Linked DNA regions of Homo sapiens. The protein of the gene in region 1 interacts with the protein of each later gene in a pairwise test. Each region holds a gene or a part of one and is shown in the gene's direction. Other genes may lie near its edges.

Region 1 (3,705 bases):
ATGAAAGCTCAGAGAGACAAAAAAGGCTCTTCCAGAAATCTCCCTTGCTTCTAGCACCTGCTTCCCCTCCATCAGGCTGTCTTCAGTCTTTCTCCAGAGGCCTCTGCTTACAGTGTGTTGTTGTTTTCTTTTTAAGAGACAGGGTCTCACTCTGTCACCCAGGCTGGAGTGCAGTGGCATGATCATGGCACACTGCAGCTTCAAACTCCTGGGCTTAAGGGATCCTCCTGCCTCAGCCTCCTGAGTAGCTAGGATTATAGGTGTGCACCACCACACCAGGCCAATTATTTAAAAATCTTGTAGAGACAAGGTCTCACTATGTTGCTCAGGCTGGTCTTGAACTTTTGGCCTTGAGTAATCCTCCCACCTTGGCCTCCTAAAGTGCTGAGATTACAGGCATGACCCACTGCCCCCAGTCCCCATTTTCTTTAAAAGGCCTGAACATTTCCTTCCTCGTGTCAGTCCTGAACAATTCACATTTTCAGGGCTCTGCTCACAGGCCTGTGACTTAGCCTGCCTGCCTATGAAACCATTAGCAAATTGGAAATACCTCTTGCACCAGTCAGAAGGGGGATTGGTTTCTCTTATATGCACATACATTGGGTCTACTGCACAAATTACAGGGCTCCAAGTGTCTTATGAGAGCAGGACTTGGGCTGACCATGTCTCTCTGCCCTCACCCATGCTCTGCTCTGATTTCAGATCCTAAGTGTGAACGTGAAGTCCCCAGCCCTGCTGCTGAGCCAGTTGCTGCCCTACATGGAGAACAGGTATGGCAGGGCGGGGGTGGGGACCAGTCGGAGTTGGGGACCTGAGGTGGGCACAGAAATACAGTCGGTAGCACAGCCAGTAGTGGGTAGAGGACAGAAGAGGTCTGGGATCTCCACATCCCTCATCTTCTTGTCCTGCCTCCCCATCTGTGTGGCTGCCATTCCCAATTCCAGTGGCTGCAGGATGAGAGTAGTATTCCAGGGGCCCAGGCATAGCCTCCTTGGCCTTGACATCAGCAGGTTTGGGACAAGGCTATGCTTTAACTCCTTGACCTTGTGGGCTGGTCATTGTCACCTTACCTGCTCTCTGTTCTTACCAACTTAAAACCAATGACAGGGTTAGCCCCATTCCTCTCCATAGGAAAAAGCCTGTCCCAGACCTCTCCTCATGCCTGCGCTTGGTCTCCAGGGACCCTGCCTGTGTTCCAGGTCCTGCAGATCTGACTGTACCCCTCACAGACACACCCTTAGGAACTGGCCAGGGGCTGTCTTCAGTAGAAGGAAAGTTCCTGACTGTCACTTCTGGTCTCCCTTACCCCATCTGCTCCTTAGAGGTTGCTCATTGATAGGCACTCACCATCAGCCTTGGGTGCCTCTTCACAAAGCCCACCCTGCCCTCTCCTTCAAGCACCTGGCAAGAGAGGAAGCAGAAGATAAGGGTTCTGAGCATGGACATCGTATTTATGAGAAATAGGCATGGAATCCTAGCTCTGCCGTGTATTGGCTGGTACTAAACCTTTCTGAGCCTCAGTTTTCTGAACTCTGAGATGGGGACAGTAATAGGACCTGTGTTGCTTCTGTGAGGGTTGCATCATTTAATGAACTCATGATAGTGTCACCATCAGTGGTAAGCTCTTAGCTTCAGCTTCTCTTATGTTTGTCTTGTCTCAGGAGGGGTGCTGTCATCCTGGTCTCTTCCATTGCAGCTTATAATCCAGTAGTGGTAAGTGCTTGGTCCTTGTGCTCCTGAGTGGTATAGGGTGAGGGGCAACTTTGTTCTTTTCCTCAGAGCCTTACAGACAAAGTGCCTGGGACAGACCCCCACCATCCTCCTGCTGCCCTGGGCTGAGCTTGTCTCCATGTGGGTGGGAGGGCTGCTGGGCCTGTGAGATCCCTGTAGGTGAGAAATCCAACTGATGCTTTCCCCCACTCTCCCATATCCTAATCACTCTGTCAATTCCCTTCCCAGGCGCTGGGTGTCTACAATGTCAGCAAGACAGCGCTGCTGGGTCTCACTAGAACACTGGCATTGGAGCTGGCCCCCAAGGACATCCGGGTAAACTGCGTGGTTCCAGGAATTATCAAAACTGACTTCAGCAAAGTGGTGAGGATTGGGTGTGTCTTCCATCTCCCAGTCTGGCTCAGTGGGAACCCTTCCCAGTGAATAAGGGATCAAGGGGTGACTGAATCCTTAGGTCAGCATGCCTATGACTGAGGTCCTCATTGTTCTCTGAACTCAGCCATGGTGCAGTCCATCCATCCTGAAAAGATGCTCCTTCTTTTGAGAAGGGCAAAGCTGCCCTAGGTGTTCTGCCTGGTGGCCTTCCCGGGGCCCTGCCCATCTTGTTTTAGTAGCACTGACTCCTTCATTTCTTCCCTTTGCCCAGTTTCATGGGAATGAGTCTCTCTGGAAGAACTTCAAGGAACATCATCAGCTGCAGAGGCAAGTGGGGTTTGGAGATTTGGTGGTCCATGTGTGGCTAGGCAGGGGCAGTTGAGTCTATTGCAAGAGCAGACCCCTCCCTGTCATCTGGCCATTGTTTTTGCTGAAATCTGGAGTCCACATGGCCCTGGAGGGTGCAAGTAGCCCTGCTGCATCCACCTTGTTCCCCATGGAGCCCACTCCCACCTGTCATCCGTGAGCCCCAGAGCAGCAGAATCAGAGTACAAGATGCTTGACACTGTGTCCTTCTTCCATCCAGGATTGGGGAGTCAGAGGACTGTGCAGGAATCGTGTCCTTCCTGTGCTCTCCAGATGCCAGCTACGTCAACGGGGAGAACATTGCGGTGGCAGGCTACTCCACTCGGCTCTGAGAGGAGTGGGGGCGGCTGCGTAGCTGTGGTCCCAGGCCCAGGAGCCTGAGGGGGTGTCTAGGTGATCATTTGGATCTGGAGGCAGAGTCTGCCATTCTGCCAGACTAGCAATTTGGGGGCTTACTCATGCTAGGCTTGAGGAAGAAGAAAAACGCTTCGGCATTCTCCTTAGGACTTATCTGCTTGTAGATTTGGCTGATCCAATTAACATGTGGGGTTCTTGGTGTGGGTCTGGGGAGCTGAAGGATTTTATGGAGCTGGTGCTTTGGAGGAATCTTAAGGGAAAGGAGTAGAAGCTCAGGCCTTTGAAGGATTTCAGCTCCTCCTCTCTGTAATTTGTGCTTTAAGCATTTTTTTTCCTAAAATAAACTCAAATTTATCCTCAAGTCTGGAAGCATCTGTCAAGGGTAGAGCCCAGGGCAGCATGGTGGGAAGAGGCCTCTACCGCCAGCTGCCCTGAGCTCGTCGCAGACACACAGAGGCGGGAGTGAGTGTGCTGCCTTGCAGAAGGCTTTGTGTGTGCTCCATTATCTGAACTGGGCCTGCTGGGGGCTCAGCAAGGTGGTGGTGGGTGACAGTGGAAAGATTCTGGGGTTCTCCCAGGGGTCCTCCAGGCTAATACTTCTTAATGTTTTCTGGGCCACACAGGCCTTTGAGAACCCAGAGAAAACAGTTATACCGAATCTTGTGCATAATTCCAGTTAGAGGAGAGTAGTCAGAGCTGAAGTTCCTCTTGGGGTGAACACATGGCTTTCTCAGAAAAGGCCCTGTGTATTGTCCTGAGTCATATTCGGGGGCACCGCCCTCTGTGTATGCATACTGAGGCTCAGCACAGTGGAGGGGGAACAGTGGTCCTCGAGCCATCCGTGGCCCTGAGCACCACTCTTGCCACCCATAAATG
Region 2 (3,817 bases), on another chromosome or scaffold:
CCAACATGGAGAAACCCCATCTCTACTAAAAATACAAAATTAGCCTGGCGTGGTGGCGCATGCCTGTAATCCAACTATGCAGGAGGCTGAGGCAGGAGAATCGTTTGAACCTGGGAGGCAGAGATTGCGGTAAGCCAAGACCGCGCCGTTATACTCCAGCCTGGGCCACAAGAGCAAAACTCTATCTGAAAAGAAAAAAAGGAAAATGATAGACTGGGAAAAGTTTTGCAACAAACTTAGTAAAGCATTAGTATTATTTATGTAAAGAGAATTCTTGCAAATTCATAATAAAAACCACTGAATGTCTAAATAAAAATGACATAAGCAGACAATTCATAAAAGAATATAAATAGTGGGCAAATCTTTGAAAACAATCCAACCTTATTGTCAATCAAGAAAAGCATACAAGCATATTAAAACAGTCTTCTTGGCCAGGCATGGCTCACACCCATGATCCCAGCACTTTGGGAGACAGCAGCACGTGGATAACTTGAGCCCAGGTGTTGGAGACCAGCCTGGACAACATGGCAAAACCCCTGGACAACATGGCAAAACCCTGTCTCTACTAAAAATAAAAATTAAATGATTAGCTGGGCATGGTGGTGTGTGCCTGTAGTTCCAGCTGCTCAGGAGGCTGAGGCAGGAGGATTACTTGAGCCCAGGAGATGGAGGATTGCTTAAGCCCAGGAGATAGAGGCTGCAGTGAGCTAGAATTGTGCCACTGCACTGCAACCTGGGTGACAGAGCCAGACCCTGTCTCAGAAACAAACAAAAATCCAAAAAACTGTTTTTCCCTATCTAATCAGCAAGGCTTTTTAACAGTAGTATTTTACTACTGTTAAATAGGCTGGATTGTGAGTAGTATTTACTACTGTAAATAGGCTGGATCCAGCTGTATAGGCTGGATTGTAAGTCAAGCCCTCTCATACACTACCAAAGAAAAGGCCAGTTGAGGCCAAAACTCTGCCATACATATGGGTCAAGAGAACCACTTCTAGGCATCCATCCAAAGGTAGTTATCAAAAATAAGGATTAAGGGTATTCACTGCAGTTTTGTTGATAAGAGCCAAAAACGAAATAAATTTCCAACAAAAGTCCAATTGCTGTAAAAAAAAGAATGAGTTTATGTCCTTTGCAGGGACATGGATGAAGCTGGAAGCCATCATTCTCAGCAAACTAACACAGGAACAGAAAACCAAACACCACATGTTCTCACTCATAAGTGGGAGTTGAACAATGAAAACACATGGACACAGGGAGGGGAACGTCACACACCGGGGCCTGTTGGGGGATGGGGGACAAGGAGAGGGAGAGCATTCGGACAAATACCTAATGAATGCAGGGCTTAAAACCTAGATGACGGGTTGATGGGTGCAGCAAACCACCATGGCACATGCATACCTATGTAACAAACCTGCACATTCTGCACATGTATCCCAGAACTTAAAATAAAATTTTAAAAAAGTCCAATGGCTGAACGTATCATGTGTGGTCTATCCCTACAATGTACTAACATGCATTATAGGGATATACCACACGTGATGATTTCATCACGTGATGAAATAATGATTTTTAAAATCATTATTTTGCTCACTATTTATGGAAATGGGAAACTGTTTAAGTGAGATGAACTATAAAACTGCAATATTGGGGGGGTGATTGCTTTTTTTTTCTTTTATACTTTTCTGCATTTTCTGGATTTTCTATCATGATTTTGCTTTTATGATAAGCAAAATGTTCATATCTGTTTTCTAGCGCCTGAGTAAATTTCACTTGCCAACCCCTGGGGACACATCTCGCTTCCGAGGTACCATATCTAAAAGTGGCTTGCAAGCACACCATCTGCGACTCCCTCTCACCGCTTCAGAGGATTTTAGGACCTGTCTACCTTTCCTGTATTCCTTTGTCTCCAAACATGAAATGGTGACCCTCATCCATGTTTGTTTGGTTTGGGCCTGTTTTCACCTCCTTCCAAAAAAAGGAAGAGAAGAAGAATGTGATTTTTCGTGTTTCTAAGCACTTTCACGCCGTCTGTGCATCCATAGATGTTCGATTTGGGTGCCTGTTGGGCTGGGTCATGGGAAAACTCATAAAGAAGTGCCAGTTTCTTTTGCGTTGTGAAGAGACACTGACCCTGTCTTTGTTCTTGTCCACAGATATGATGCTTCCTGGTGTGTTTAGTGGTTGGTGCCATTCCAATTTTCTGTGCTGAAATCATTCTGAAAACTCAAACAGTAGACTTCAGCACACAAGGAAAGCCAAAGCCATTTGAGGGGGAATAAAGCCAAAAGCCTTTCACCTTATTCGTTCCAAGAATCTCACCGCCCCCTCCTTATCCCCCTCCAAAAATAAGCCATTGCACACAGACAGGCAGCATGGCTAGCAAACGAAAATCTACAACTCCATGCATGGTTCGGACATCACAAGTAGTAGAACAAGATGTGCCCGAGGAAGTAGACAGGGCCAAAGAGAAAGGAATCGGCACACCACAGCCTGACGTGGCCAAGGACAGTTGGGCAGCAGAACTTGAAAACTCTTCCAAAGAAAACGAAGTGATAGAGGTGAAATCTATGGGGGAAAGCCAGTCCAAAAAACTCCAAGGTGGTTATGAGTGCAAATACTGCCCCTACTCCACGCAAAACCTGAACGAGTTCACGGAGCATGTCGACATGCAGCATCCCAACGTGATTCTCAACCCCCTCTACGTGTGTGCAGAATGTAACTTCACAACCAAAAAGTACGACTCCCTATCCGACCACAACTCCAAGTTCCATCCCGGGGAGGCCAACTTCAAGCTGAAGTTAATTAAACGCAATAATCAAACTGTCTTGGAACAGTCCATCGAAACCACCAACCATGTCGTGTCCATCACCACCAGTGGCCCTGGAACTGGTGACAGTGATTCTGGGATCTCGGTGAGTAAAACCCCCATCATGAAGCCTGGAAAACCAAAAGCGGATGCCAAGAAGGTGCCCAAGAAGCCCGAGGAGATCACCCCCGAGAACCACGTGGAAGGGACCGCCCGCCTGGTGACAGACACAGCTGAGATCCTCTCGAGACTCGGCGGGGTGGAGCTCCTCCAAGACACATTAGGACACGTCATGCCTTCTGTACAGCTGCCACCAAATATCAACCTTGTGCCCAAGGTCCCTGTCCCACTAAATACTACCAAATACAACTCTGCCCTGGATACAAATGCCACGATGATCAACTCTTTCAACAAGTTTCCTTACCCGACCCAGGCTGAGTTGTCCTGGCTGACAGCTGCCTCCAAACACCCAGAGGAGCACATCAGAATCTGGTTTGCCACCCAGCGCTTAAAGCATGGCATCAGCTGGTCCCCAGAAGAGGTGGAGGAGGCCCGGAAGAAGATGTTCAACGGCACCATCCAGTCAGTACCCCCGACCATCACTGTGCTGCCCGCCCAGTTGGCCCCCACAAAGGTGACGCAGCCCATCCTCCAGACGGCTCTACCGTGCCAGATCCTCGGCCAGACTAGCCTGGTGCTGACTCAGGTGACCAGCGGGTCAACAACCGTCTCTTGCTCCCCCATCACACTTGCCGTGGCAGGAGTCACCAACCATGGCCAGAAGAGACCCTTGGTGACTCCCCAAGCTGCCCCCGAACCCAAGCGTCCACACATCGCTCAGGTGCCAGAGCCCCCACCCAAGGTGGCCAACCCCCCGCTCACACCAGCCAGTGACCGCAAGAAGACAAAGGAGCAGATAGCACATCTCAAGGCCAGCTTTCTCCAGAGCCAGTTCCCTGACGATGCCGAGGTTTACCGGCTCATCGAGGTGACTGGCCTTGCCAGGAG

The links.
Region 2: the proteins of DHRS2 (region 1) and ZHX2 interact in a two-hybrid assay, tested with the Homo sapiens proteins (one large-scale study listed by BioGRID and IntAct).

What each region holds. Positions count from the first base shown.
Region 1 is NC_000014.9:23,642,450-23,646,154, forward strand, and holds the end of DHRS2 (dehydrogenase/reductase SDR family member 2, mitochondrial), read left to right. Parts: intron 1-702; coding exon 703-770; intron 771-1,661; coding exon 1,662-1,713; intron 1,714-1,959; coding exon 1,960-2,094; coding exon of another isoform or gene 2,095-2,105; intron 2,106-2,377; coding exon 2,378-2,433; intron 2,434-2,692; coding exon 2,693-2,804; coding exon of another isoform or gene 2,805-2,853; 3' UTR 2,854-3,190; downstream 3,191-3,705. UniProt on the Homo sapiens protein: NADPH-dependent oxidoreductase which catalyzes the reduction of dicarbonyl compounds. Displays reductase activity in vitro with 3,4-hexanedione, 2,3-heptanedione and 1-phenyl-1,2-propanedione as substrates.
Region 2 is NC_000008.11:122,949,136-122,952,952, forward strand, and holds part of ZHX2 (zinc fingers and homeoboxes protein 2), read left to right. Parts: intron 1-1,755; exon of another isoform or gene 1,756-2,156; 5' UTR 2,157-2,375; coding exon 2,376-3,817. UniProt on the Homo sapiens protein: Acts as a transcriptional repressor. Represses the promoter activity of the CDC25C gene stimulated by NFYA.